Linked DNA regions of Homo sapiens: region 1 is linked to region 2. Evidence: fine-mapped expression QTL. A gene starts in region 2. The other region holds a variant in brackets. All regions are shown on one strand. Distances are between the middles of the regions.

Region 1 (15,835 bases), 80 kb before region 2:
GAATGGATAAGGGCCAACCTTCCAAGATCTTTAGACTCCATATGGCACAGAAGATGAAGGAAATAACCAACTTCGTATGTTTCCTTGGCTGAGGGTGTGGGCATGCTACACGTTTTACCTCTCTAATCACCCAGAATACTTTGCTTTTTCCCAAGTAGAAGACAAAGACAGGAAAAGGTCATGCAGGGGATAGTTCTTGACTGTCCTGTCCCTTCTCCAGCAAAGCAAGGGGCATAGGGCCTGGGTTATATTTGGAGTGCTGTAAACCATCTTTGGGGTTTAAGGTCTGATATTCAGATGGACTTCAGATTAAAAGTTGCATGCTGGCTGGGTGTCGTGGCTCACACCTGTAATCCCAACACTTTGAGAGGCTGAGGCAGGAGGATCACTTGAGCCCAGGAGTTCGAGACCAGCCTGGGAAACATGGTGAAACTCCACCTCTGTAAGCAAAATAATAAAAAATTAGCCGGGCATGGTGGTGCACACCTGTAGTCCCAGCTACTTGGGAGGCTGAGGCAGGCAGATTGCTTGAACCCAGGAGGTCAAGGCTGTGGTTAGCCGTGATCTCACCACTGCACTCTAGCCTGGGCGAAACAGTGAGACCCTGCCTTATTTTAACAAAAAAAAAAAAAAAAAACCTTTCATGCTAAACCTGAACCAGAAAACATTTTCACCATGTTTCACCAACAATGATGTCAAAAAATAGGAGCTGCCCAGCTCCAAGCCATGATAATTCTGACATTAACCCCAGATAGCCCAAGAGAGAGACATTGTGAAGTCTGGTATCAGAGTGGTACATCTGGTGAGAATATGCTGTTTGAATTGTATATACCAGAGAGAAAACCAAACATACGTGATATTATGTAAGTCTACCAAATCGAGAAAATCCATTGTCTTTTTAACACCTAATCTCAGTTGGGCGCGGTGGCTCACGCCTGTAATCCCAGCACTTTGGGAGGCCGAGGTGGGCGGATCATGAGGGCAGGAGATTGAGACCATCCTGGCTAACACGGTGAAACCCCGTCTCTACTAAAAATACAAAAAATTAGCCGGGCATGGTGGTGGGCGCCTGTAGTCCCAGCTACTCGGGAGGCTGAGGCAGGAGAATGGCGTGAACCCGGGAGGTGGAGCTTGCAGTGAGCCGAGATCGCACCACTGCACTCCAGCCTGGGCGACAGAGCGAGACTCTGTCTCAAAAAATAAATAAAAGTAAAACCTAATCTCCACCAATGACCAAATTTTTTATTTTTATTGTTTTTTTTGATGGAGTCTCACTCTGTCACTAAGGCTGGAGTGCAGTGGTGAGATCTCAGCTCACTGCAACCTCTGCCTCCTGTGTTCAAGCGATTCTCCTTCCTCAGCCTCCCAAGTAGCTGGGATTATAGGCTTGTGCCACCATGACCAGCTAATTTATTTTTTGTATTTTTAGTATAGACGGGGTTTCACCATGTTGGTCAGGCTAGTCTCAAACTCCTGACCTCAAGGTGATTCGCCCTCCTCGGCCTCCCAAAGTGCTGAGATTACAGGTGTGAGCCACACCACACCCGGTCTTATTCTTATTTATTTATTTTTATTTATTTATTTTTTTTGAGACGGAGTCTCGCTCTGTCGCCCAGGCTGGAGTGCAGTGGCACGATCTCGGCTCACTGCAAGCTCCGCCTCCCGGGTTCACACCATTCTCCTGCCTCAGCCTCCTGAGTAGCTGGGACTACAGGTGCCCGCCACCATGCCCAGCTAATTTTTTGTATTTTTAGTAGAGACGGGGTTTCACCGTGTTAGCCAGGATGATCTCGATCTCCTGACCTCGTGATCTGCCCACCTCGGCCTCCCAAAGTGCTGGGATTACAGGCTTGAGCCACTGCGCCTTGCCCCTTATTTTTATTTTTTTGAGTCATAGTATCTTTCTGTCACCCAGGCTGGAGTACAGCCGCATGATCCAGGCTCACTGCAGCCTTGACTTTCTGGGGTCAAGTGATCCTCCCACCTCAGCCTCCCAATTAGGTGGACCACAGGTGTGTACCACCACACCTGGCTAATTTTTGTATTTTTAGTAGAGATAGGGTTTCACTATGTTGCCCAGGCTGGTCTCAAAATCCTGATCTCAAGTGATCCGTCTGCCTTGGCCTCCCAAAGTGCTGGGATTACAGTTGTGAGCCACCCTTGCAAGATGGCCAGTTTCTTAAGAAATTGAAGTTGCTTCTGGATGGGGACAGGGGATCCATGACCAATATGCCTGCACTCACTCAGGGTCCTATTGGGCTCCACCAATGCTATCAGCTCCCTGGGACTTAGTAGCCTCTGTGAGGCTTGTGACAACATAGGCTTACCAGAAACAAATTAGTAAGAAGTACCTCTTAAGGTACCAGATCAGAAGGCTTGATCTGTGATTAGAGGTGCCAATGAAATAGTAAACAGGTGGAAGCCCCAAGAAGTGAACATCAATTAAGTGACTCCAGTGTGAGAGTTGTTCATGAACCTTAGGTCACCAAAATTGGTTTTGGTTTTGGTTTTGGTTTTTGAGGGCTGCTTTATACCCCTAGAGAGAATAGCAGAATGGACAACTACTGAAATTCACAGGCCCAATTTATCAGCACAGGTTGGTGAGAAAGGAGAAAGGGCACCTCTGTTTCTTCAGATTGGAACAACAATCACAGCAGGCATCTACTGGGGAAGAAGCCAGCAAGGCTAGAAGGGCCAGAGGCGCCAGGAGCAGCAGCTCTCAACCTCGGCTGCACAGAGTCATCTGGGGAGCTTTTTATACTGATGCCTGCCCTCCTCCCAAGAGATTCACCTTCAATTGGCCTGGCCTGAGTCCTGCAAAGAGGAACTTTGAAAGGATCCCAGGTGAGTCTAGCATGTAGCTAGAGCTAAGAACCTCTGATGTAGATGAAGGGCCTGTAATCCTAATTTATACTCAAGATGTATTCAGTTATCATGGACTTCATCATAATCTTCAGAATTCTCATAGTTGGTGTAGCTGATCTGAGGGAGAGGAAAAGGTTACCATATCTGTTCTCCAAAAGCAAGTTTACATGATGTATTAGTCTGTTTTCCCCTGCTGATAAAGACATACCCGAGACTGGGTAATTTATAAAGAAAAAGAGGTTTAATGGACTCACAGTTCCACAATCATGGCAGAAGGTGAAAGGCACATCTTACATGGCAGCAGACGAGAGAAATGAGAGCCAAGCAAAAGGGGTTTCCCCTTACAAAACCATCAGATCTCATAAGACTTATTCACTACCATGAGAACAGTATGGGGGAAACTGCCCCCGTGATTCAATTATCTCCAATTATGTCCCTCCGACAACACGTGGGAATTATGGGAGCTACAAATCAAGATGAGATTTGGGTGGGGACACAGCCAAACCATATCACATGATAAAGCTCAGATGGAGGATTCTGGTGGAGATCTGTGTGAGAGAAGTGATTCCAAATACAAGATGTACCCAGGATGAGCAAGATGCCAGTGCTTTGCATGAGCAAAGTCTGAAACCTGAATAGGGCCCCCCTCCCAAAAGTTCAGTTACAAGACTGTACCCACTAGTTTGCTTTCAGCTGAACAGAATGAGTTAGAAGTGGGGTAGCACAGGTCGGATGCGGTAGCTCACACCTGTAATCCCAGCACTTTGGGAGGCCGAGGCGGGCAGATCATGAGATAAGAATTTGAGACCAGCCTGACCAACATGGTGAAACCCTGCCTCTACTAAAAATACAAAAGTTAGCCAGGTGTGGTGGTGCGTGCCTGTAATCCCAGCTACTCAGGATGCTGAGGCAGAAGAATTGCTTGAATCCAGGAGGCAGAGGTTGCAGTAAGCTGAGATCATGCCACTGCACTCCAGCCTGGGCAACAGAGCAAGACTCCATCTCAAAAAAAAAAAAAAACTGGGTAGCACTGAGTTTTTGGCTACTCATAACCCTGGCATTTTGGAAACCCAGACACATGCAAAATGAAAGCTAAAGGGCTAGCTCCAAACATTGGGAGGCTCTGTGTGTCCTGGGTTTGCTTCAAGCCGCAAAGAAAGAAGGTCATGCAGCAGCAGTCTACAAACACAAAGATAACCGCTTGGTGAGCATATCCTCCTTTTCATATTATGTAGGGCAGAAACTGTGGCGTGTCTGCCACTCCCTGGCTCTGAAGTTTGTGAGAAGGAATCATGATTGAGTCAAGCTCGACCTGGCAGGACCTCCAGGATTTCAAAAAATAAGTAATTAAATTCACCCCAAAAGGAAAAGGATAAAGATTGAACTGGAAGAAAAGTTGTCTCTGGGTGCTACCATAAAATACCAGGATTCTGTTTAGAGAGACTTTCAAATACTTCCTTGGGAAAAGCCTAACAGGGACAAAAATTCACAATCTTCCCTCACTATCTTCATTTTCTAAGGGAGGAAAATTCTTCATGTTACAGCTCCTAGGTTTCCTTTGTTGTAGAGAACCCACAAGGAGAAATTAAAAAAAAAAAAGGAAATAAGGCCAGGCACGGTGGCTCATGCCTGTAGTCTCAGCACTTTGGTTGGGAGGCTGAGGCAGGCAGATCACTTGAGCCCAGGAGTTCGAGACCAGACTAGGCAACATGGCAAAAAAAGCCGGGCGTGGTGGTGCACGTCTGTATTCCCAGTGACCTGGGAGGCTGAGATGGGAGGATCGCTTGAGCCCAGGAGGCAGAGGTTGCAGTGAGCCATGATCATGCCACTACACTCCAGCCTTGGTGACAGACCCTGTCTCAAAAAAACTAGATAAGATGTTTAAGATCTATTTGAAGGTATCAGAGATTCCAAGTTGGAAAAAGATGGGCAAAAGGGAAAAAATAGAAGCTGTATGGACTAGATATTAGAGGGGACTTGGGTAGGGCTGAAAAGTGCTAGTTGGAGAGATTTTCAGAGCTCTATTGCCAGAGGTGTAGGGTATATTTGGGGAGAAGAAATATTTAAGATGTTAGGCATTAAAAATACATTTCCTCTTTGGCTCTTCTCAAGAAACAAAATGCTGCAAATTACTTGTCATGAATTTTAGCTGCTGACCTAGATTTCTTTGGATGGATGCCTTGCAATAAATGGATTACATATGGTCTTGATTTACATTAAAATTATTAGGGGTATATATGGAAAACAGAAGATGACTTAAAATCCATTATAATTAATATCTGGAGAAAGATTAAAGAGGTGATCACATTCATAAAACAAGAACTGGCTGTGAAGAAACAAACCAGTGAAAGATTAGAAAATTAAAAATTGAATATCAAAAAACTCTAGCTGGAGAAAAAATTTTTCTGAGTGATTTTTAAAAACACAGTGCAGGCTGGGCACGGTGGCTCACACCTGTAATTGCAGAACTTTGGGAGGCCGAGATGGGTGGATCACCTGAAGTTTTGGAGTTCAAGACCAACCTGACCAACATAGTGAAACCCCATCTTTACTAAATATACAAAATTAGCCAGGCATGGTGGTACATGCCTGTAATCCCAGCTACTTGGGAGGCTGAGGCAGGAGAATCACTTGAACCTGGGAGGCGGAGGTTGCAGTGAGCCAAGATCACGCCATTGCACTCCACCCTGGGCAATAAGAGCAAAACTCCATCTCAAAAAAAAAAAGTGCAAAAGGGGAACAAAAGAGACAAAGACAAAAATGTCCAAGAAAAGTTAGAAAACAAAGATCCAGATGTATCAACATTGATCTGATGAAAGTTCCAGAGAAGCTAAAGAAAAGAGAGGGGAGAAAATCATTTTTGAAATGAGATGAAAATTCCCCAGAGGTGAAAACAAGACACCAGTTTTCATATTTAAAGAGTCGCTCAAATGCAAGGAAGATCAGTTTTTAAAAATATATCTGGGTCTATCATGGGGAAATATCAGGACACCAAGAATAAAGAATAAAATTCATAAAGTTACCAAAGAGAAAAGACATACTGCTTCAAAATAAAATGGAATGAGATTATGCTTAGAATTCTCATCAGTACCTCTAAATGTAATAAGAAAGGCACTAATATAGCTGCAACTGTCAAGAGTGAGAACAGAAGAAAGACGTATTGAGACATGCATGGACTTAATATTTATCTTCTTAAACCCTTTTCAGGAATTTAGAGGATGTGTTCCAGCATGTGACTATGTAAGCCTAGAAAGAGAAAGATATAATGTTAAAGAAATAGTAAATATAACTAGGAAAATAATAAGTAATTCAAGGATAGCAGCTGCACAAATCAACCTGGAGAGAAATCAAGCCAGTTGGAACAGGGGAAGGAGGATCCCAGAGAAAAATTTTTGTGAATAAAATCCAGCCAACTAAATCCTGAATCAAAATAAACAGCTCAAAAACAGCACTGCAATGGTGAAAAGGCTGGTGGTGAACAGTGTAACCATATACATTTAGAACTACCACTAAACAACTCTGTAAATTATGACCATA[G/T]AATAGAATGCCAATTCCAAACACTTTGATGAAGTAAAATAACCAACAACAAAAAATGAAAGGTAGGTTTTCTGTTTCAGGCAGAAGTAGACTAACTTTTTGCATACCAACTCTCTCACTAAGCACAATCAGAAAAACTAGACAAGATGTTTAAGATCTATTTGAAGGTATCAGAACTAGTACAATGAGGACGTGAGAGCAAAGATAGATGAGAAACATACAAAGATGAGACCAACATTCAGTGCTGCTTTTCCATCGAGTCATCTACTGATTTAAAACACACACACACACACACACACACACAGCTGAAAGGCTGAAAAGCTGAGCAGAAAGTGATGACTCATATATACGGAGGAGCTGTGCAGTGCTTCCAACAGTCTCAAAGGGATAGGGAGGAAATTAGACTTTAGAGTCCACCAAGGAAGAGACCCTCATAAACACTCCATGCTTTCAGCTGGAATATCTGAAAGGCCAAATATTTAGAAAACTGGTGAATCAGAAGTGAATAAGCCCTCAAAAAGACTTATTCCCAGATTCAAATCAGCTCAATCCCTGAGTAGATTAAGGAGAACTGGCCCACTTTCAACTGACAGCCAGAAGCTAAAATAAAACTATAAGAAAATAACACCGTAGGCAGGGCGTGGTGGCTCACACCTGTAATCCCAGCACTTTGGGAGGCCAAGACAGGCAGATCATCTGAGGTCAGGAGTTCGAGACCAGCCTGGCCAACATGGTGAAACCCCATCTCTACTAAAAATAACAACAACAACAACAAAAAAAATTAGCCGGGCATGGTGGCATGTGCCTGTAGTCCCAGCTACTGATGAGGCTGAGGCAGGAGATAATCTGATAATTGCTTGAACCTGGGAGGCAGAGGTTGCAGTGAGCAGAGATCACACCACTGAACTCCAACCTAGGCGACAGAGCAACACTGTCTCAAAAACAAAGAAAAAACACTGTACAGGGAATCAAATTATGTCTATAATTTTTCATGTGCAATACCAAACATTCAATGAAAAACTATTAGGATGATTCTGGCCAAGATCGACTAAAAAGATTACCTTTATCCTCCCATCCAAAACAACCAAAAAGATGGTGGGGGGGGGATGAAACAATAGGTTACAAGACACTGAACATTAAAGCAACAAATAACAGTCATGGAGAGAGCTTGGAAACAAGGTAAACCCTAAAATTGCCCTGCATTACTGCCTTGAAAGAGTTTCCAGGTCACGGTGCGGGGAAGGAGAACCCTGCATAACCTAACAAACAGCCTGAGTTGAGGAGACAAACTGAGAATCTGGGGTGACAAAGCAGCTAGAATCTGCAGGAATGAGTACCAGAGAGGAGGAAACTGCAAAGACAGAGAAAACTCCAGATATCTGCAGAGGGTTCCCCTTGAGTATTCAACAGAGTACTAATCAGTCCAAGCATGTTTGGAAACTACCCAAGGCCAGGGAATGAACCAGCTGAAGAGATTAGAGGGAATGGTGCTGAGAATTTACACAGGGCCAAGTGGAAACGGACTGTTTCCACTAACGAGACTGGAAAACCTCAAAATGCACAGGGAATTTGGTAGAGTACGCAGAAGAGTCTTGGGTCAGTTGTGGGAATAATTAATCCTAAAGGATTCTGGTCCTGCCTAACAGATTTTAAAAGCAAGACCTGAAAGGATCAAACTGTTTCCAAGTAATTTAACTGTGTCCCAGAATAAAGCTCAAGAATGTTTATGGGAATAAAAATTATCAAACATTCAGCAAGGTAAAATTCATAACGTCTGGTATCCAATCCAAAATTATTAGGCACAGGTCAGGCACGCGCCTGTGGCTCATGCCTGTAATCCCAACACTTTGAGAGGCTGGGGTGGGAGGCTCGCTTGAGCCCAGGAGTTCGAGAACCAGCCTGGGCAACATAGTGAGACCTCATCTCTACCAAAAATTTTAAAAATTAGCCAGGTGTGATGGCACATGTATGTGGTCTCAGCTACTCAGGAGGCTGAGATGGGATCGCTTGTGCCTGGGAGGTCAAGACTGCAATGAGTCACGATCACGCCACTGCACTCCAGCCTGGGTGACAGAGCAAAACCTTGTCTCAAAAAAAAAAAAAAAATTACTATGCACGGAAAGAAGGAAGATACAACCCAAAATAGGGGGGTGGGTGGGGAATAAATCAATCAAAACCAACCCCTAAATGAACGGATGTTAGAATTAGTAGACAGGAACATTAAGAGTTATAACAGTATTTCATATGTTCAAAAAGTTAAGACATGGAAGATTTATTTTAAAGACCCAAATCAAACTTCAAGAGATGAGAATTACAATGTCCAAGATGAAATATACTGGCTAGAATTAATAACAGATTAATAATAGCCAAAACTTTTGCAAGATACAAACTAGAAGAAAACATTTGCAAATCATATACCCAACAAAGGATTTGTATCCAGATAATAAACTCATAACAGTAAAAAAAAAAAAAGCCTATTGAAAAGTGAGCAAAATGTATTAAACCAAAAATGATATGTGATAAGTGAGCATATGAAAAGATGCCCAACATTATTAGTCATTAGGGAAATGCACATTAAAATGGCTAAAAAAGGCCAGGTGTGGTGGCTCATGCCTGTAATCCCAGCACTTTGGGAGGTCAAGGCAGGTGGATCATCTGAGCTCAGGAGTTCGAGACCAGCCTGGGCAATATGGCGAAACCTGTCTCTAAAAAAAATACCAAAAAATTAGCCAAGCATGGTGGTGCGTGCCTGTAGACCCAGCTACTCGGGAGGCTGAGGCAGGGAGGATCACTTGAACCCAGGAGGCAGAGACCATCGTGAGCTGGATGCCACTGCACTCCAGCCTGGGCAACAGAGTGAGACCCTCTTTCAAAAAAAAAAAAAAGGCTAAAAAAGAAAAGAAAACTGACAATACCAAGTGCTGACAAGGATGCAGAACCACTGGAACTCTCATATATTTCTGATTAGAATACATATGGTACAGCTACTCTAGGAAATATTTTGACAGTTTCTTAAAAAGTTGAATATATACTTACCACACTACCCAGCCATCCCACTTCCATGTATTTACCCTGCATAAATGAAAACTTATGTGCACAAAAACCTTTACGTAAATGTTTATAGCAGCTCAAACCATAATTGTGAAAAAAAAGGAAACCCAAATGCCTTTCTTTTTTTTACTTTTTTAAAAAAATGTTTTAATTTTTCATTTTTGTGGGTACACAGTAGATGTATATATTTGTGGGGTACGTGAGATGTCTTGATACAGGCATGCAATGTGAAATAAGCACATCACGGAGAATGGGGCATCCATCCCCTCAAGACTTTATCCTTTAAGTTACAAACAACCCAATTACACTCTTTTAATTATTTTAAAATGTTCATTAAGTTATTGTTGACTACAGTCACCCTGTTGTGCAGTCAAATAGTATGTCTTATTCATTCTTTCTAACTATCTATTTTTTGTACCTATTAACCATCCCCACCTTCCTCCCAATCCCCCCACTTCCCATTCCCAGCCTCTGGTAACCATCCTTCTATTCTCTATGTCCATGAGTTCAATTGTTTTGATTTTTAGATCTTACAAATAACATGCAATGTTTGTCTTTCTGTGCCTGGATTATTTCACTTAACATTATGATCTCCAGTTCCACCCATGTTGCTGCAAATGATAGGAATTCATTCTTTTTTATGGCTGAATAGTACTCCATTGTGTATATGTACTACATTTTCTTTACCCATTCACCTGTTGATGGACACTTAGGTTACTTCCAAATCTTAGCTGTTCTGAACAGTGCTGCAACAAACGTGGGAGTGCAGATATATCTTTGATGTACGGATTTCCTTTCTTTTGGGTATATACCCAGCAGTGGGATTGCTGGATCATATGGTAGAGATCCATTGCTGGATCTCTATTTTTGGTCTTTTGAGGAACTTCCAAACTGTTCTCCATAGTGGTTGTACTAATTTATGTTCCCACCAACAGTGTATGAGGGTTCCCTTTTCTCCATGTCCTCACCCGCATGTGTTATTGCCTGTCTTTTGAATATAAGCTTTTTTTTTTTTTTTTTTTGAGATGGAGTTTCACTCTTGTTGCCCAGGCTGGAGTGCAATGGCACGATCTCGGCTCATCACAACCTCCGCCTCTGGGGTTCAAGTGATTCTCCTGCCTCAGCCTCCTGAGTAGCGGGGACTACAGGCGCCTGCCACTAAGCCCGGCTAATTTTGTATTTTTAGTAGAGACTGGGTTTCTCCATGTTGGTCAGGCTGGTCTCAAACTTCCGACCTCAGGTGATCCGCCCACCTCAGCATCCCAAAGTGCTGGGATTACAGGCGTGAGCCACCGCGCCCGGCCGAATATAAGCCATTTTAACTGAGGTGAGGTAATATCTCATTGTAGTTTTTATTTGCATTTCTCTGATGATCAGTGATATTGAGCACCTTTTCAGATGCCTGTCTGCCATTTGTATGTCGTCTTTTGAGAAATGTCTATTCAAATCTTCTGCCCATTTTTTGATAGGATTATTAGACTTTTTCCTATATAGTTGTTTGAGCTCCTTATATATTCTGGCTATTAATCCCTTGTCACATGGGTAGTTTGCAAATATTTTCTCCCATTCTGTGGGTTGTCTCTTCACTTTGCTGATTGTTTCCTTTGCTGTGCAGAAGCTTTTTATGTGACCAAATGCCTTTCAATGGGTGAATGAATAAACAATTGTGGTATAGCGTTATAATGGACTACTACTGAACAATAAGAAGGAACAGACCATTGATACATGCAACTACATAGATGAATCTTAATGACACTATGCTGAATGAAAGACACCCTCAAAGATGTATGATTTCATTGATATGACATTCTGGGAAAGGGAAAACTATAGTGATGAAGAACAGATGACTGTTTGCCAGGGCTTAGAGGTGGGATGAGGGTGTAATTACTAAGACACAGCCTAAGGGAGATTTGGGGGATGATGGAATTCCGTATCCAGTTTGTGGTAGAGGCTATATAAATCTATGCATGTGTTAAAACTCATAGAACTTTACACCAAAACAAGCATCAATTTTACTATGTGTTATCTTCTAAATACAGACCTGAACACCAAATAGGTCAATTTTACTCTTTATTATTTAAAAGTAAAATGGAAACACAATGAGATATCACAACGTACACCCTAAAATGGCTAAAATGTTTAAAAGACTGATCATAACAAGTGCTGGCGAGGATGTAGAGCAACTGCAACTCTTAACACTGCTGGTGGAATTGTAAAATGGTACAACTATGTAGGAAAGTTTGGCTATGTCTAAAATATTAAATATATACCTACCACACAAACTAGTCATTCCACCTACCCCAAAGAATTGAAAACATATGTCCACACAAATATATAAATGTTCATGGCAGTTTTATATGTAATAGCCCCAAACTGTGAACAATCCAAATGGCTATCAAGAGGTGAATGGGCAGATTGTGCTGTATCCATACAATGGAATAATACTCAGCAATTAAAAGGAATAAACTATTGATATATGCAGCAATAGAGATGAATCTCAAAATAATGGTTCTGAGTGCAGGAAACAAGACTAAGAAGGGAAAAAAAAGGAGTAGCAGAGTTAAGAGATGATATGTAGCCCATAATGAAATTACTGAACTAGAAGGCAGGTTAAAAGAAACTATCCAGAATGAAGCATGGAGAGACCTAAAACATGGAAAATATGTTTTGAAAAGTGCAAGAGACATACAGGATACAATGTGAAGGCCTAACAAATATTTCTCCCTTTTTTTCTTTTTTTGAGACAGGGTCTCACTCTGTCGCCCATGCTGGGGTGCAGTGGTGCAGTGGTGCAGTCACGGCTTACTGCAGCCTTGATTTCCCAGGCTCAAGTGATCCTTCCACCCTCATACACTGCTGATGGGAATGTAAAATCATGCAACTGTTTTGGAAAATAGTCTGGTAATTGCTAAAAATGTTAAAAGTCAAGGTACTATATGAGTCAGCAACTTCACCTCTAGGTTCATGGCCAAGAGAAGTGAAAACATGTACACACAAAAACTTGTACACAAATACTTACAGCAGCATTATTCATAATAGCCAAAAGGTGGGACAACTCAAATGTCCATCAACTGATGGAAGAATGGATAAACAAAATGTGGTATATCCATACAATGGAATATTATTTGGCCATTAAAAAGAAACAAAGTACTGAGACATGCTACAACATGGATGACACTTGAAAACATTGTGCTAAGTGAAAAAAGCCAGTCAAAAACAGCATATATTTTATGATTCCATTTATATGAAGTGACCAGCATAGCAAACCTATAGAGACTAAAGGTAAACTAGTGGATGTCAGAGGCTAGGAGGATGGGGGGAGTGGGAAGTGACTGCTTATGGGTATGAAATTTCTTTTTTATTATTATTATTTTTTATTTGGAGACGGTGTTTTGCTCTTCTCACCCAGGCTGGAGTGCAATGGTGTGATCTCAGCTTACTGCAACTTCCACCTCCCAGGTTCAAGCGATTCTCCTGCCTCAGCCTCCTGAGTAGCTGGGATTACAGATGCCCACCACCATACCTGGCTAATTTGTTGTATTTTTAGTAGAGAGGGGTTTTGCCATGTTGGGAAGGCTGGTCTCGAACTCCTGACCTCAGGTGATCTGCCCGCCTCAGCATCCCAAAGTGCTGGGATTACAGGCGTGAGCCACCGCAACCGGCACTGGGTATGAAATTTCTTTTGAGAGTGATGACATATTCTAAACTTAGATCATGTTGATGGTTGGACAATTCTGTGAATATACTAAAATTTGAATTGTATACCTTAAATGGTTGGATTTTACGGTGCGTGAATTATATCCCAGTAAAGATTGTTTTAAAAAGCCATGATGGGGCCAGGTGCACTAGCTCATGCCTGTAATCCCAGCACTTTGGGAGGCTGAGGCGGGTAGATCACTTAAGGCCAGGAGTTCGAGACCAGCCTGGCCAACATGATAAAACCCTGTCTCTACTAAAAACACAAAAATTAGCTGGGGGTGGCGGTGCGTGCCTGTAGTCCCAGCTACTCGGGAGGCTGAGGAAGGAGAATCACTTGAACCCGGGAAGTGGAGGTTGCAGTGAGCTGAGATTACACCACTGCACTCTGGCCTGGGGGACAGAGTGAGACTCCATCCTCCCCCGCCCCTGCAAAAAAAGTTATGGGGCACAGTTACAGAGAAAGACAAATGACAAATGGAACAAAACAGAGATCCTAGAAGCAGATCCACTTACACAGGAATATTTTATATATCATGGAGCTGGCTCTGCAAATTAGTGGGCAAGTATTGATTTTTTCAATAAAGAGTTGAACTGTATGAAGTTGAAGTTGAAAAACGTTAAAGTGAATGCTTAACTCACACTATAATCCACATCGAATCCGTTTCAGGATAAAGACATAAGTATGAAAAGTCAAACTACAGAGCTTTAAAAAACTAATATCAGAGAATAACCTCATTACTATCAGGAAGGATTTCTTAAGACACATAAAGCATTAATCATAAGGAAAAGATACCAATTTTACCAGGTTATAATGATGAACTTAAGTTAATCAAAAGACACAATAGAGTAAAATGGCAAGCCACAGACCAAGAGAAGATATTTACAGAGATTTTAAAATTACATGTATGGCCAGGTGTGGTGGCTCATACCTGTACAGCACTTTGGGAGGCCAAGGCAAGAGGATCACTTGAGCCCAGGAGTCTGAGACCAGCCGGGGCAACACGGCAAAACCCCATCTCTACCAAAAAAGAAAAAAATAGAAAAATTAGCCAGGCGTAGTGGCATGCACCTGTGGTCCCAGCTACTCGGGAGGCTGAGGTGGGAGGGGTGGTTGAGCCCAGGAGGTAGATGTTGCAGTGAGCCAAGATTGCGTCACCGCACTCCATCCAGCCTGGGCGACAGAGCAAGGCCCTGACTCAAAAACTAACTAACTAAATAAATAAAATTACATATAACTGACAAAGGACTAATATCAAGACTATATAAAGGGGCCAGGCATGGTGGCTCACACCTGTGATCCCAGCTCTTTGATTGAGCCCAGGAGTTCGAGATCAGCCTGGGCAACATAGTGAGACCTTGTCTCTTAAAATAGATGATAGATAGATAGATAGATAGATAGATAGATAGATAGATAGAGATATAGATGTTTATGGATCAACAAGAAAAATGTAAGTGATCCAATAGAAATGGGCCATTCATAGAAAATAGGCCAAAAAAAAAACCAATATAGGCTTGTCACAAAAGAGGAAATGTGAATAACCAATAAATATGTGAAAAGATGCTCAATATTATTCATAATTAGGGATATGTTCATTAAAATCTCAATATAATATTCTTTTACATGCACAAAATTGGCAAAACTTAAAAGTGTGCCAATATTACCGTGTTCTCATTGCTGCACATCCTCACCAAAACTCAATATTTTCCAATTTTGCTGTGAAGAGTGTAAATTGGTCCATTTTGAAACAAAGCTTAGGACTGCACATGTGAACAAAAGTTCTCTGGAAAGGAATTTGGAGGAAAGATACTTTATTTCAGTGCATGGTTTGCAAACTAGGGAGAGGAAGGCTTCCCTGTAAAACAAAGGTGTTTTCCAGAGAACAAAAACAGGGTTACGGTCTCATAGCAAAAGTTCTCGACCAAGTTCCCAATCTGGTCTGTTCATGCAAATAAAGGACTGAAACTTAGTTTTGATTGGTCAGTGAAGCTGAGTTCTGATTGGTTGATACAGCTGAGCCCTGATTGACTGAGGCAGGTATGCTCTGATTAGTTGATTCAGGTGAGTTCTGGAGTCCCAAAGTTGAACAGAGGTGTGGATTTAGGGGGAATTCAGAGGATATGGGTGACCTCTAGTCAGCAAATGGCTGCTTGGCTCTGTTTTATTTTTACAGTTTTTTTCCTTTTTTTTTTTTTTTTTTCCTATACCAGTTGGTTCACATCTATTTTAAATTTAGGCCCAGTTAGCCACTGGGGATCCGTCTTGAATGATTGGCTCTCTCAGGTTCACATTTGTTCACACATGTTAAATTTGAATAAGATCAGGAATGACATTCAGGGACAGTGGTGATGTCTGCTACAACAATGCTCTCATTCTTGCTCATTTAACAAAATGTGTAACGTATAGGGAAAGGAAGAGATGGAGAACTCTTATTCAGCACTGTGTACCTAGCATTAAGACTTTTTTACATGCTTCTTTATTTAAAGTTGAGGCAAAGAAGGTACTCAGAATGCTGTTATTCTATGAAAGGAAATTTCTGGCTGAAGTTCCTTCTACTAGGGAGAAATAAATCAAGAGCACTGTTACTCCATCAGGACAGGTTGCACATTTACAGACTATCACTCTCTTGCTTCTTTTTTTCTTTTTTTTCTTTTTTTCTTTCAGCAATCCCACCACTGGGGACAT
Region 2 (15,835 bases):
TTACAGGCGTGAACCACCACACCCGGCATGAACTGTTATTACTACTACATTTCACTGACTCTGAAGATACCAATTGTAAGCTGTACCCTTATTTTACATGACTAAGAAAAAAACATTGCCAATTAAACTGATACAGTATTTTCTTATTATCTAGGATTTTCATTCTAGATTTATCAAGACAATTCAGACTTATTTAGACAGACTTTTATCATATCTTGTGTATACAGAAGCAAAAGAAATTGGCCGGGCACAGTGGCTCATGCCTGTAATCCTAGCACTTTGGGAGGCCGAGGCGGGCAGATTGCCTGGGTTCAGGAGTTCGAGAACAGCCTGGGAAACACAGTGAAAACCTGTCTCGACTAAAATACAAAAAATTAGCTGGGCGTGGCAGCGTGCACCTGTAGTCCCAGCTACTCGGGACGCTGAGGCAGGAGAATTGCTTGAACCCGGGAGGCGGAGGTTGCAGTGAGCTGAGATCGTGCCACTGCACTCCAGCCTGGGCGACAGAAAAAAAAGAAGCAAAATAAATTGGTAAGGTATTCCTACAACTTCACATTCAAGGTCCTACTATGGATTGCTCTTCCACTCAAAACTGTTCAACTGTTGCTAACAATATTGTGCTCTGCCAATAAGAGTGTTGGTGATGCAGCACTTCTTAAAATGATCCATTATTATTTATGGGATTTTCTTTCAAGGCAGACACCCACTTTGCAATTTCTTCCGCCTCCAGTTTTATTGTTTGGCATGAAATAACAATACAGCAATGCACATACTCATTTAAAGTGATGACAAAATGAAGAGCCCTGACCAAGTTTGTGCATGTGCAAGCAATGATAACTACATCATGACTGCTGCCTAGACAACAGTGATTATGGGACACCATCAAAGATCTATTTTGACTTCAGATATGTGAAGATGTAGGGGGGAAAAGTGTACCTCAGAATCTATGAAATATGATGAGAGTTCAGCAAGGTTACGTGATCAATACATATAAGTCAACAGTGATCCTTATACATCAGCAATAATAGCAACTATAACTAAAAGAAAATCCTATTCACAATGACAACAAAAATTACACAGTATCTAACAAAAATATCTAACAAAAGTTGTGCAAGAGCTTTATGAAAAGTAGTAGCACATACCCAGAATTCAAATCCCAGCTCTATTAGCATTTATCTACATGAATCTATGTATTTATTCTATAAATTTGAGGCAAATATAAAAATCCAACAGTTTTCACAGAAAATGACAAACTAACCCCAAAATAAGCAAAGGGAGGAAAACAGCTAAAATAATCCTGAAGGAAAAGAAGATATACTCAGTTTTAATTATAAAGCTATTATTAAGGCCGGGCACAGTGGCTCACGCCTGTAATCCCAGCACTTTGAGAGGCCGAGGTGGGCAGATCATGAGGTCAGGAGATCGAGACCATCCTGGCTAACACGGTGAAACCCCGTCTCTACTAAAAATACAAAAAATTAGCCGGGCGTGGTTGCGGGCGCCTGTAGTCCCAGCTACTCGGGAGGCTGAGGCAGGAGAATGGCGTGAGCCCAGGAGGTGAAGCTTGCAGTGAGCTGAGATCGCACCACTGCACTCCAGCCTGGGCGACAGAGCAAAACTCCGTCTCCAAAAAAAAAAAGGCTATTATTAAATCAGGATAGTATAGATATAGAGATAGGCAAACAGACCAATGAAACCAAAAGAGAGAAACTAAAAACAGATACATATGTGGGAATATGATATATCTCAGGAGTTGCATTATAAATCAGTGGGGAGAAACGCTGAACCATTTGATAAATCCACATGAAAAAGATATTAGATTCCTACGTCACACAATATACAAAAAACTCCGGTGAATTAACGACCTAAATATGAAACAGCACAGTATCATTACAACCTTGGGGTAAGGGAAGAATGTATTGAAGACATAAGAAAACACAAGCCATAAATGAAAAAAACTGAGAACTGGCTACCATCATATTATGAAGTCCTACATAAAAAACTTTCCACAAACAGAGCTAAAAGCCAAGCCACAGACCAGGAAAAGATATTTTCAGTGTATATAATCACAAATTAGTATCCAGAATATAAAACCCATAAACCAGCCAGCCACAGTGGCTCACACCTGTAATCCCAGCACTTTCAGAGGCCAAGGAGGGCCGATCACTTGAGGTCAGGAGTTCGAGACAAGCCTGGCCAACATGGTGAAACCCCGTCTCTACTTAAAGCACAAAAATTAACCGGGCATGGTGGCAGGCGTCTGTTATCCCAGCTACTCAGGAGGCTGAGGCAGGACAATTGCTTGAACCTGGGAGGCAGAGGCTACAGTGAGCCCAGACCACGTGCCACTGCACTCCAGCCTGGGCAACAGAGCAAGACTCCATCTCAAATAAATAAATAAATAAATAAAACCCATATACCAATAAGGAGGAGGCAACAATCCAACAGAAAAATGAACCAAAGGTATGCACAAGCAATTAATAGAAAACTCTGATGGCCGATAAATACATGGGGAAAAAAGGTCAACCTCACTAGTAATCTTAGAAATGCAAAATGAAAATAGCAAGGAGATGCCATTTATACCCAACAGATTGGGAAAAAATTGCAAAATCTAATCCTTTGGCAGTGATTTGGAGAAACGGGATCAAACACAGCGGGAGTGTCAAATAGAAGACAATTTGCCATTTTGGCAATTCCCAGTAAAGTTGATAATGCACAGACTTCTTAAATGAAGCAATTCTACTTCTACTATATGTATATAATCCCAAGAAAGACAAACCATGTATAAGGATGTTCATAGCAGTAGTGTTTGAAATTCAGAAACTGCAAACAGTTTCTATCGGTCCCTCCAAGAAGAAAAGATAAATAAACCACAGTATATTTATTTATACACTGAAATACAAATAAAATGAATGGAATCAGTAGTTTTCAAACTTCGTGGTCTCAGGACTCCTTTGCACTCTTAAAAATTAAGGATCACAATAAAATTTAAAAAACAAAACAAAAAACAAAAATTAAGAACCACAAAGAGTTTTTACGTGGGTCGTATCTATAGATGTTTATCATACTAGAAATTAAAACTGAGATATTTAAAAGCACTTATTAACCCATAAAAATACTTTTTTTCTTTATTCCTTTTTTCCCTTTTGTTGAGATTTTTTTAAAACTCTTATTTTAGGTTCGGGAGTACATGTGCAGGTTTGTCACATGGGTAAACTTCTGTCACGGGGGTTTATTGTACAGATTATTTCATCACCCAGGTATTTAAGCCCAGTACCCAATAGTTATCTCTTCTGATCCTCTCTCTCCTCCCTCCCTTCACCCTCTAGTAGACCCCCAGTGTCTCGTTTCCTTCTTTGTGTTCATCAGTTAGCTCCCACCTGTATGTGAGAATATTCGGTATTTGGTTTTCTGTTCCTGCGTTAGTTTGCTAAGGATAATAGCCTCCAGCTCCATCCATGTTTCCGCAAAAGACACGACCTCGTTCTTTTTTATGGCTGCATATTTATTTTAAAATAACTATTTTTCTAAACAAAAAAAAATAGTAAAACAAGTGGCACTGTTTTACATTTTTGCAAATCTCTTTCATGTCTGGCTTAATAGAAACCGGCTGGATTCCCGTAAGTGTTTCTGCATTCTATCTATTATGACATCATATGTCATGCAGCCTCTGTACAGTATTCCTATAGTGTACAGGAAAATGTGGGTGAAAAGAGCAAATAAAAAGTATTATGAAAATAGTTTTGACCTCATGGACCCCCTGAAAGAATCTTAGGGATCCCCAGGAATCCCTGCAGCACACTTTGAAAACTGCTGGACTAAACACATTACATGGATAAATCTCAAAAACACACTGTTAAGTAAAAATAATATATAAGGTATGGTTATGATACTGTTTATGTAAAGTTAAACACACAAGCAATACCTGATATTGTTTTGGTACATACATATTGGGACAGGTGGTTACTTCTGGAGAAAAGAAGACAGGAAGGGGATGGGGAGGGACCCTTTGAATCTGTGAGATTTTATTTCTTTAAACAACAAAAAGATATGAATCAAATATGTAGCAAAATATTAAGATCTCTTAAATCTGGGTGATTCTGATTTTCAGTAATTTAAAAATATTCCATAAAACTTTTTAAATATATTTTTTAAATGCCTAATGGCTGTGTACCTCAAGGCCACACAATTTCCTTAGAGTATACTTCCTTTGAGTAAAATACAATTACAAGATACCTGGGTTTTATAAAATGTTGTCTGGAAAAATAACTTGGCAGGAATAAGAATAGGCTGGCCATATTCCAATCAGATAAGGGGTGGTGGGAGGGGTTACTCCTTGACCTGGTGCCCTAATAAGTGTGCCTTAATATGTATGTCCCTGAGTCAAAAAACACACTGACTGGATACCTGATTTTTGAACAGCTGAAAACTATTAACTACGTAGAATTCTCTGTACCCAGTAACCGAAATTATTGCTTTGAGAGATAATGGTCCATATGCCAGGTACTGCTTGGAGACAAAGATAAATCAGAACTTGTCTCTATATTCACAGTGTAGAAGGAAAAAATATAAACACACAGTTCAAATATAATACATTAAATGATAAATTAAGGGGAATCCCACCATAGAAGACAGAGAAGGCACAGAGAGTTTCTGAAACACAGAGCACTTTTATATAACACACCTGTTAACATGCTGTGCAAGTTTCCCAATTTGGGTAATACTGGATTTAAGAATAAGTGGGGTGCAAAGAAAGTGAAGACAGGTGAGGCTTTTGTAAGATGAGCAAACCTAGGAATATTTGTAAAGAGAGGTTAATGATGCAAGAGACGGCATCACGCACAGAGCTTGGTCCCTAAGGAGGCAGCCAGGGTGAAGAGCAGGCTCAGAGCAGCAGTGGGGCTTGTGAGACAGCAATCCCTCCTGCAACCTCCCCTGCGGCAAAAGGAGGAAGGCCTAGGTGAAGACAGGAAAGGCATGAAGGGGAAGGGAGGGGAGACTTGGCTCTTTATCAGATGGCCATCTACCCTTCTCAGTGAAGTGAAAGACTGGGTAATCTTTGCTGAAGATGAGAGATTTCAAGGACCCGTTGAGTAGTTTTAAGAGTGAAAAAAAGTTTGGAATTGCCAGTGTACACAAGAACAAATAATACAAAGAAGATTATCAGTGACAGAATCAGTCTAAATGGGTTAAGTGAGAGTAAGCATTTGCAATGAGAGTAAGCATTTACAAAAAGCAATGTGGAAAAAAAAATTTGTAACACATTCGTGAGCATGTTTTTTTAAAAAAAGAAATCTGCATCTATCTGAAAAATACACAGAAATTAAAAACTAACACCTTATTCATCCAGGGTGGTTGGGTTCGAAGGTGTTCCACCAGTCAGTTTTCCAAAGTTTCAAGGTCTACCCTTTCAGGCAAAAATAATTTTATATTTAACCATTTCTAATTGAAACTAAACTACACACTTACCTGTCTTAATCACACAACTTGACTCTAATCTTAATCTTGAACATCCACTGTTGCTGTACTGCGCAGCAAAACAATTCTATCTTCTTAATAGTTCTTCTATGTCTTTCCCAGCTGTCAAAATATAAAAGCACCTGGTTCTTCTAAGTTTATGTTTACCCTTAACACCTCAACAACCACAGCCCGCCTTCTCAACTTGCTTCTAGTCAGCCTCATGCAATGCACTGTTTCTCGAACTTTTCTAAACCATAGCCCTTTATAATAAACATGAGACTCTCATTCCCTCCAGCCCTTTCATGGAGCACCGCTGCTCACGACCTGTTACAGTCTAGAAAAATGGAAAAACTGAAAATGGGTATCTATGCCACCTAAAGGTTTCCATCATAAAATTCTAGGAAACAGGCAGGGCACGGTGGTTCATGCCTGTAATCCCAGCACTTTGGGAGGTCAAGGCAGGCAGATCACTTGAGGTCAGGAGTTCGAGACCAGCCTGGCCAACATGAAACCCTGTCTCTACTAAAAATACAAAAATTAACCAGGCATGGTGGCAGGGTCCTGTAGTCCCAGCTACTCGGGAGGCTGAGGCAGGAGAATTACTTGAACCCGGGAGGCAGAGGTTGCAATGAGCCAAGATCACACCACTGCACTCCAGCCTGGGCGACAGAGTGAGATTCAGTCTCAAAAAAAAAAAAAAATTACCACGGGAATACTCATTTCTCATTTTCGTCAAATAACCCACAGCACTAGTCCTGTACTTTTCAACCATGGTAAATGAAATGTTAGAAACCCCTCCCTATTTGTGTACCATAGAAATTCTGACAACTCTGAGCAAAAGATTATTTCGGATGAGAAATCAGGATAGAAAAAAGGAGCAGCTGTCTTAATAGAGACGCATCGTTCCAAAAGTAGCAAAATTTGCTTAACTTCTGAACATTCTTGTAATCGTTCTGATAATGAAAACACTGATCAACTTACTACTCTCATTATTTTTCAACTTTGAAACTTTTCCTAGTCCAATGGAACTACTAAGTACCGTAAAGCACAGCTCAGGGAACAGACGGCAGTGACAGGCGGGCAGTGGGAGGCGGGAGAACGGCTTGAGCCCAGGAGTTCGAGACCAGCCTGGGGCAATATAGCAAGAACCTGTCTCAAAATAAAAAATAAGTAAATAACAAGGTGCAGCTCAGGTGTGCCATCACTCTTCTAGTTGAGGGCACCCCCGCTGCCTACCCCATTGAGTATAAGCCCCTCCACCTGGCAAGCAAGCCCTTCTGCAATCTAACTTTTCTAGCCTGAATTCCCACCACTCCCCTACCTATACCATCCACTTTTGCCAAACTGTAAATACTTACTGTTTACTGAAGAAGCTTCACCCTTGAAACGTCCTTTCTCCACCTCCACCTCTACCTAACAAAGTCCTACCCATCCCTCGGTAACCTTCTCAAAATGCCACCTATTAATACTTCAGGAACCCGTCCCTCCCTGATCCTCCAATGGCAACCTTGCTTCCCTCGGAAATCCCAGTAATTAGTTGTACCTCTCACTTTACTGCATTTCACCTTGCCCCACCTACCTCTAAACATGAGACTTCTTGCAGCCACCGTCTGCATTACAAGAACCTTTTTAATGTTTCTTAGCATCTAGCACGGTGCATCGCTAACAGTAGGCTCCGAGTTTATCAAGAAAGTTGCACAGTGTGCAATCAAAAAAGTACGTTAGGGGATGAAACTCCGCCTTAAAACTTCACAAATGAAAAATCGAAATACCATGACAGGCAAATGCACAATAAATATGCACCACACTAAGTTGTCCTCCAATAAGAAAATAAAAAAGTCTGCCCTTATTCCTCGATTTAAAAAAATACCACCAACAGATCACTACTTAAATCGTTTTTCAAGAAAGTTGTTTCCACATAAATGAGTACGAATGATTCAAAATTTTATTCCTCCGCTCTCGTGTTGTGCAATTTTTTTCCCTATAGGACAAAAGAATGGCAAAAACTTTCCCATCAATCTTTATTTTTCTTCCTTTATTCAGATACTCGGGGCGGCAAAGATTGTTGGAAAAACAACTGCATCGAAAGCACCTTAGCAGCCACATATGATTTGACTTAAGCAAAAATAACATTTCCTGGGGTCCCGTATGCCCTGGTAAGCCCAGGTGTCCGGAATGCCACCTGCCCCGACTGCCCTCGGGTGGCTACAGGCGCGGGGGAAGGCGCAGGGCCAGGGGCGCTGAGGGTGAAACGGTCCCGGCGTCCGGGCGGCGGCGGTGGCCGCCTGCGGCAGCTCAGCTGAAACGCAGCGGAAACTGCAGCCAGTCACGGGGCTGCGGGAGGCAAGGCAGGAAGGTGGCGCTGCCGCCGAGCGCCTGGAGCCCGAGCGCTCATCATGGCGGCAAGGGCAATGGCCGCCACGGGGAGCGAGCACGCCCCTCCGCGCGCACACGCCGCCGCGCCGGGCCTCCGGGGCCCGTCACCGGCGCCGCTGCCGCCGCCGCCCGCTCTCCCACCCCCCCTCACGGGCTGTAGCGGAATTTTCTCTCCAGACACCGCCTCCAAGATGGCGGCTCCCCCTCCCGGCAACCCCCTCTATCGTCCCCTGCAGCAGGCGCCGAGCCGCCGCCATCTTGTCCCCCGTCCCTCCCCCCCCCTCACCGATATTTACATAGCGAAAATCGGCCCGGCCGGCCTGCGGCCTTCACCTCACGCCTGCAGCCTTCGCCTCCTCGCCAGGCCTCACCCCGGCGCGGTGCCCCAGGTCGGCCGCGGAGCCGACCCGGGGCCCCTCGACCGCCTCCGGCACAACCGGGCGACCCTCCCCCAACCCCCGCCCGCTTACGGAGCGCGCCTCCGCCGCCGCTCGGGGCAGCCGGGCTCCTCCCCGGGCCTAACTGCGGCCTCCTCGGGGCCTGCTCGGCGCCGCGCGCCACGCCGCCCGGCCTAGCGCGGGAGGGCGCCTTGCGGGCCGCCGACCAGGCCGAGACCAGGCCGCTGTGCGCGCACTAGGCCCCGCGGCCGCGGCGGCACCCGGGACTCACCGGACGGACGTGCGGGCGGCCGGCGACGGTGGCGGGTGCTGCAGGCCGGCCTTTCTCTGGAGCACTGGGCCGGGCTCCGGCTGGTGGGGCGGGCGGAGGGAGGGAGGAGGGGCCGAGCTCGGAGCTGACAAAAAGCGGCCCAGCTCCCCGGCACGGGCCCGCCGTCAGCACGTCACGTCACCGCCCGGGAGAGAGACCCAGGAAAATGCGGAAGGGTAGACAGGCCCCCTCCTCCGCCCGGTGGGTCCTCCTGGCACCCCGTGTCGGCGCCGCTCCCGCCCCGCGACCGGGGAGCCCAGTGGCCTCGCTGCGGCGGGGTCTCCGGCGGCCGGAGTCTCCGTGACAGCGCCCCCCTTCTTTCCACCTCCTCCGCGCTCCCGCCCGCCGCCGCCACACACGCGCCGCTGCCGCCGCCGCCTCGGCCGTAAAGCCCGCGCGGGGCCGCGGTCGGCCGACCCCGCGGAGAGGCAGGCGGCCCGGCCGCCCCCCACCATGTCCCGTGGGCCGCGGCCGCCCCCCGGGGGCCTCCCTGGAGACCTACCGCCTCTCGCGCCGGTCCTGGCCGAGGCTCCAGCTCGAGTTGTTTGCAGGCCCTCAGACCCCCGCCCGCAGTAAATGTGTTTTCTTCATCCCCGTGGCTGGGGAGGAAGATAAATTTAGCAACCCCCGCCGTCCCCTGCCTTCGCTTAAAAAAAAAAAATCTTTGAAATAAAATGAAAACGGGCTTGCCAGTCTAAATGGGTGTGCGGGAAGGGGGGTGGAGTGGGGGGAGAAGGGTTATCCCTAGAGCACCTACCAGGCCGTCTACTTTTTAAAAATAAGCAGTCAGAGCCAAACTGATTTTATTAGTTTGTACGGGGGAGGGAGATGAGCAAAGTTGCATTTTGAAACGTTTCGCACGTTGCAAAGAACAGGAATTTTCTGTGTATTTTCCTATGTACCCGTGTTTCAGAGCTTGGGAGCCTGTGAAATGTAAGACTGGTGTCATCGTTTCATAAATCATGAATTTTCCACATTCCTTAATAGAGAGGAGCCCAATTGGGTATGGATTTTTTTTTTTTTAAACACACTGCTTAAACAAGCCTTTTGAAGTTTCAAAAGACTTGGGAGAGAAGGGGAAAATGATTAAACAGCACTTACCAACTTCAAAAATGTGTATTTCGCACTTTACTTAGTTTAAATGTTTATGCTATCTTTCCATGCTGAACTTGGAACCCAAACTCTGTTTTAAAGTTACTAGGGAAAAGTTAAATAGTGGAGTCTTTACATTAATCTGGAATCTGGCATGCTATCCTTTAACACAGCACTAAATGTTAAAGGCATTTTTAAACAATAAGAAACACAAAAATTATAAAGCAAATAGTATACTGGTGTGAAATCTCTTTAAATACAGAGGCCACGTATTTTAGTTGCCTGACATAACTCTTTAAAACTCCCAGAATGCAATTTGTCCCTTCCCTCAGACATCTCTCAATCACAAATGCTTTCAAAAAGGAAAAACAAAAGTAGAGTAAGAAGAAATCTCTGAGCATGCACTGGATGATAATTTTCCTCTCGGGGCTTTAGTCTGAATTTTTCCAAGCGATTAAATTTCCTTTCAAAAATAGTAACAGCATGTATTCATTGTTTATAAAAATTACATCAGGCTGTGATAGACTTTCACAGAAAGACATTTCACAGAAAGGTAAATGAAACTAAGCAATGTTGTTTCAATAAAAAAAAATGAGAAATAGCTTGTGTGCCCACATTAATATTTCTTGCACTCCCAGACTGGAGTGCAATGGCGTGATCTTGGCTCACTGAACCTCTGCCTTCGGGGTTCAAGCGATTCTCCTGCCTCAGCCTCCCGAGTAGCTGGGATTACAGGCACTTGCCACCACGCCTGGCTAATTTTTCTATTTTTTTAGTAGAGATGGGGTTTCACCATGTTGGCCAGGCTGGTCTCCAACTCCTGACCTCAGGTAATCCACCCGCCTCGGCCTCCCAAAGTGCTGGGATTACAGGCGTGAGCCACCGTGCCCGGCCGCCCACATTAATATTTCAAAACATTGATAATCAGCGTTTAAGTACTTTCCAAGGGCCTCAGTGTGATGCTACGGTATGGCAAGAATGGAGGCCAGGTTCCCTGGTTCAGTCCTGTAATCACAGCACTTTGGGAGGCCGAGGCGAGAGGATCACTTGAGCCCAGGAGTTCAAGACTAGCCTGGGTAACATGGTGAGACCTCGTCTCTATTAAAAAAAAAAAAAAAGAAGAAGAATAGAGCCTCACTTCATCCATGCAACTGTAAGCAGCATGTTCAAGACAGAAAAACCTAATGTCACCATTCTTGTTAGTTTTTCCATAATTACCATCAAAAATACTTATACATCCACCAGTGTAAAGCACTTAAGAAAACAGTGTCCAAGGAGCATGAAAGAAAAAGAAGTTTTCTCAGTTTAAAAGATCACAAGTAGTTTAGGGATTGATACTTTCAAAGAGCCCTTTGTCATTACTTTTCATACAGGAAGAGACTGTTAACTTTGGTGGGAAACAAAGAAAGGATGGCCTAGTTCTATTAGATTAGATAAACCTTTATTAAAGTCCAGCAAACTTTATAAAGTCCAGTTATTTTATAGATGACTATACAGATAAGGTCAACTATATTTTTTTTAGTTAAAAAAAGGTAAAGTTGTACTTTAAGCCCATTTATGGAAGTCTGTAAAGAACATTGTTTAACTGGTAAAAGAACAATGGTAAAAATCATTTCACTAGAAGTACACTTAGTATTATACTCATGATAAAGTGAAGATGAAAAGGAAGTGTAAACAGCAGAGATCAGAAATTGTTTGATGTGACAAAATACAAAATGCATTTTATGAAAGTACTCACAATAGGACCTTGAGGACACCTAAGATCCTTGAAAGCATTTGGTAATTAAGCACCAGACATCTTGCACTTAAAGGACCTACTGCAGCCTATCTTGCCTTGATAATTGTTTTCGTATTAGGGACCTTTAGAATTCTGGGCACAGGAAGTAACAAAGATGTGCTTGCCCTTGGGGAACTCGAATAAGGAGGCTGTGTAAGGCAAAATAAAAACATTCCTAAGTACTTTCATTTTCTCACTTAAGTAAACATAATAAAAGGAAATTTTATCTAGGGAGGTCGAGAGCAGAACATTTCAAAAGAGAATGCTATGAATACAAAATAGCTGGTTTCAAAGCAGTAAAAGGAATTTTGATTACGTGCTAAAATGTATTTGTTCCTTCAGAGCTGTTAATGTACATCAGATAGTTAAAAGCATTTACTCAAGGTTTTGACAGTGTTTTAATAAATTAACTAAAAATCTCTGACATGTTTATAGGTCCTTGAGCCAGAAACGATAGAAGGCCTTTCAATCATTTTTCCAGAGAAAGATTAGTCAGAAAAGAAGCTGTTGATTTTCACTCCACATCGGAGACTGATGGGAATTCAAATAAGAAGCAATAAATTATTGGCTTATGAGAAAATGTAGACCTTCTTGAATAAAGTTGTGGTAATTCTTTTTTTTTTTTTGTATCCCAAACATTAAAAAATATTTATCTTCCCCTAGAAAGGCCCTAGTTTTATTGAACTAAGCATGCCCTACAAAAATTAACCATTTATCTGACACCTGATACTTAGGTTATACTTAGCGTGAGCAAGTTGCATCTTCTGTTGGAATTCAGTTGGCCATAATTAATGCCAAGTAAGAATTTTTCATCTGAGCCCTTAAGCCACACACTCTCCCCAAGGAGAATAATTTTAAAATAAACAATGACTGGCAAATAGGTGATTTTCAAGCAGTGCTTTTTACATGAGTCATTAGTCGAACAAGACATTGTTTAATTCCTGAAAATAATAGCCAAATTCTTCATGGATTATAAATCACAGGGCACAGCAAACAAACTAGCTCCACTAAAGAGATAAAAAAATCAATATAGAGGCCTAGAAACAATGAGCAGTAGCAGTGAGCACCCCTGGTGTCCAAGTTGGGGCCTCTACAGTTTCCCACCAAAGGAAAGGGAGAAGTGATTGATTCCAGGGCTGGAGCAGGAAAGTATAAGATAAGCCAGGAACATCTCCTTATAGCAGAAAGCAAAAGAAGAAAGTGTCCAAGCTTACTAGGTTGTCTAACATTAAGAAAATTTGGATGTCAAAAAAAATTGCTATGGAGTGAAACATAGTGGATATGTTAATGAATTTATGAGACTTTAAAAATGATCAACTAGTGGTGATGGTTGCACAACTTTGTAAATGTACTAGAAATTAGTGACGTATGTATGCTTTAAAAGGGTGAATTTGATAGTATAAGAGTCATATTTCAATTTTTTAAGTGATCACTTTTGGAGAATGCTAGGGAACCAACTCAATATTTTGAAAACTAGTGAAGGAAAAGAGATGAAGCCTGTAAGATCTACTCCTCAGAGTAACCAAATAGTTGACGAAGGGACCTTCCTTTTAATAGAAGTATTCCAACTAATACATGAAGAAGTCCTGATGAAATTAGAATATCACCATTTTGGATTTTGTCGACTGCAAAATATCACCATTTTGCAACATCTAATGAATTAATGGACCTTGGCAATGATCATCAGTGGCTGCTAAGCAGAGAGAAAACCAGAAACATGCCTCAAGATGGAAGGACAAAATGCTACTAGACAAAAAAAAAAAAAAAAAAAAATCGAACCTGAGTTTGATCAACCTTCTAGCTCTAACTACCAGTTTACAGGAAATACAGGAAACAGAGAAACATATCAATGAAACCACAGGGATGCGGTCGACAAAATCCAGTTGATGAGAAACTCTAAAGGACAAATGAAAGATAAGAATAAACAAATAAATTATAAGAAAACAAATTATAAGAAAAATTCAACATTTAACAAATACATTTCTTCAACAAACAACTTATTAGAAAAAAATAGGAGGGGAATCAATAGATTAGAAAAGACTTAAAAGACATGTTCATCAATGGCAGTGTATGAACTTCATTTCATTTTTTTTTCTTGTGGCAGGGTCTCTCTCTGTTGCCCAGGCTGGAGTGTAGTAGTGCAATCACGGCACACTGCAGCCTCGACCTCCCAGGCTCAAGTGATCCTTCCACCTCAGCCTCTTGAGTAGCTGGGACTGCAGGTGCACACCAGCACACCCAGGTAATTTTCGTATTTTTCGTAGAGACAGGGTTTTGCCATGTTGCCCAGGCTGGTCTTGAACTGGACTCAAGTGATCCACCTGCGTCGGCCTCCCAAAGTGGGGGGATTACAGGCACAAGCCACGGCACCTGGCTCATTTCAATCTTGATTCAAACAAACTGTAGGTAAGGTGCGGTGGCGCATGCTGTAATCCTAGCACTTTGGGAGGCCAGTGAGCTCAGGAGTTCAAGACTAGCCTGGACAACATGATGGAACCCCACCTCTACAAGTACAAAAAAATTAGCCAGGCACGGTGGGGCTCCTGTAGTCCCAGCTACTCAAGAAGCAGAGGTTGGGAGGATCGCTTGAGCCCGGGAGGTTGAGGCTGCAGTGAGCTGAGATCATGCCGCTGCACTCCAGCCTGGGAGACAGAATGAGACCCTGTCTCAAAAAATAAATAAATAAATAAATAAATAAATAAATAAATAAATAAAAACAAAAAACTAAAAATATGAGACAATTGGAGAAATATGAACACTGGATTTTGTCAATACTGACTGGATACATGCTCATATAAACAAATTATTGTAATGTTAATTCATTTAGATATAATGATGGTGTGATTATGTCTAAAAACTAGTCCTTATCGGCCAGGCACAGCGGCTCACACCTGTTATCCTAGCACTTTGGGAGGCCGAGGTGGGGCGGATCACGAGGTCAGGAGTTTGAGACCAGCCTGGCCAACATGGTGAAACCCCATCTCTACTAAAAATACAAAAAATTAGCCAGGCGTGGTGGTGAGTGCCTGTAACCCCAGCTACTCAGGAGGCTGAGGCAGGAGGGTCACTTGAGCCCAGGAGGCAGAGGTTGCAGTGAACTGAGATTGTACCACTGTACTCCAGCCTGGGTGACAGAGTGAGACTCCATCTCAAAAAAAAAAGATCTGCCGTTACCAACGCGGGTGAACATCGTCCAATCCATTGAGGGCCTAAATAGAACAAAAATTCAGAGGAAAGGTGAATTCTCTTCTTGAGCTGCCCTGGGACATTGGAGCTCCTGGTTTTCAGGCCTTTGGACTCAGATCAAATTACACCACCAGTTTGCCTTGTTCTCCAGCTTGCATAAGGCAGACTGTAAGACTGCTTGGCCTCCATAATCACATAAGACAATTCTCATAATAAATCTCCTCTTATATATCTATGTATATATCTTATTGACTCTGTTTCTCTCTGGAGAACCCTGACTGATACAGTAGGTATGGGATAGGGCCAGTTTAACCAGGAGTCTTGGTGATACACAGACAAGTCATCCACACACCAATAACACTTTAAGAAATATTAGTACATCCTTGTAAATGCCTCTTGCCCACATGTATAAGAGTTTTTCTTGGAGTATAAACAAGTAAAATTTCAGAATATGGCACATTTTCAATATTACTCTCCAAAATGACTATCCTAATAAACATTCCCTCCAGCAGAATATGAGAATTCCCAATTCCCTACTCCTTCGTAACTCTTGATGTGCTCATACTTTTTCACAATCTAATAAGTGAGAAATGGTAAAATTGTTTTAATTGACATTTCCTTGATAACAAGTAAGTTCAAGGTATCTTTCACTCTTTATTAGCTATAGTTTTCCTCATCTGAAAATTGCCTTGGAATAACCTTTGTCTGTTTTTCTATTGTTCTTATTCATTTGTAGAAATACTTTCTACATTCTGAATATACTTCTTTGCTAATTATGTATGTTACAAATATCATTTCCTTGTCTGCTGCTTGTCTTTTAACTAATTTTGTCTAAGGTAGTTTTTCTAGTTGCACATCTTAAAGTCAATTAAAATCCTGGGGAACTTTTTTTTTAAATGAGATAGGGTCTCACTATGTTGCCCAGGCTGGTCTCGAACTCCTGGCCTCAAAAGAGACCCCCCCCCCCCTCCCCCGCCGCCTTGGCCTCCCAAAGTGCTGGGATTACAGGCATGAGCCACAACACCCAGCCAAAGTAATGTCTTTTTATTTATTTAGTTAGTTAGTTAGTTAGAGACAGGAGTTTCGCCCTTTCGCCCAGGCTGGAGTGAAGTGGCAGGATCACACCTCACTGCAACCTCTGGTTGCCAGGTTCAAGTGATTCTCATGCCTCAGCCTCCCAAGTAGCTGGGATTACAGGTGCACACCACCACACCTAGCTAATTTTTGTATTTTTAG

Alleles and levels. Alleles are on the strand shown, and positions count from the first base shown. SD is a standard deviation of normalised expression in the study named.
For the expression in fibroblasts of the gene that starts at base 8,571 in region 2, allele G in region 1 goes with a lower level than allele T (small effect, 0.35 SD a copy in GTEx).

What was found. PIP is the estimated chance that this variant, and not a neighbour inherited with it, causes the effect. A credible set is the group of variants that fine-mapping cannot tell apart.
Region 1: its variant is the best candidate, but not a certain one, in a credible set for the expression of ZFX in fibroblasts (GTEx, PIP 0.64).

Annotation. Positions count from the first base shown.
Region 1 is chrX:24,222,192-24,238,026 of GRCh38, reverse strand. No RefSeq gene overlaps it. Among named protein-coding and RNA genes, the nearest start is that of ZFX, 80 kb to the right of the region's middle. RefSeq lists enhancers at 2,439-2,628, 2,689-2,798 and a cis regulatory region at 6,568-6,919. The variant G/T (reference allele first, on the strand shown) is at 6,403.
Region 2 is chrX:24,142,465-24,158,299 of GRCh38, reverse strand. ZFX (zinc finger protein X-linked) reads right to left here and starts at 8,571. Exons shown (of 10, transcript NM_003410.4): 1 at 8,506-8,571; 2 at 6,500-6,609; 3 at 5,470-5,580. It overlaps ZFX-AS1 (ZFX antisense RNA 1), which reads left to right and starts at 8,646. Exons shown (of 3, transcript NR_046657.1): 1 at 8,646-8,745; 2 at 9,458-9,547; 3 at 11,849-12,075. RefSeq lists enhancers at 4,640-4,729, 8,115-8,928, 9,135-9,234 and silencers at 7,565-8,074, 8,125-8,174, 8,195-8,604, 8,665-9,024.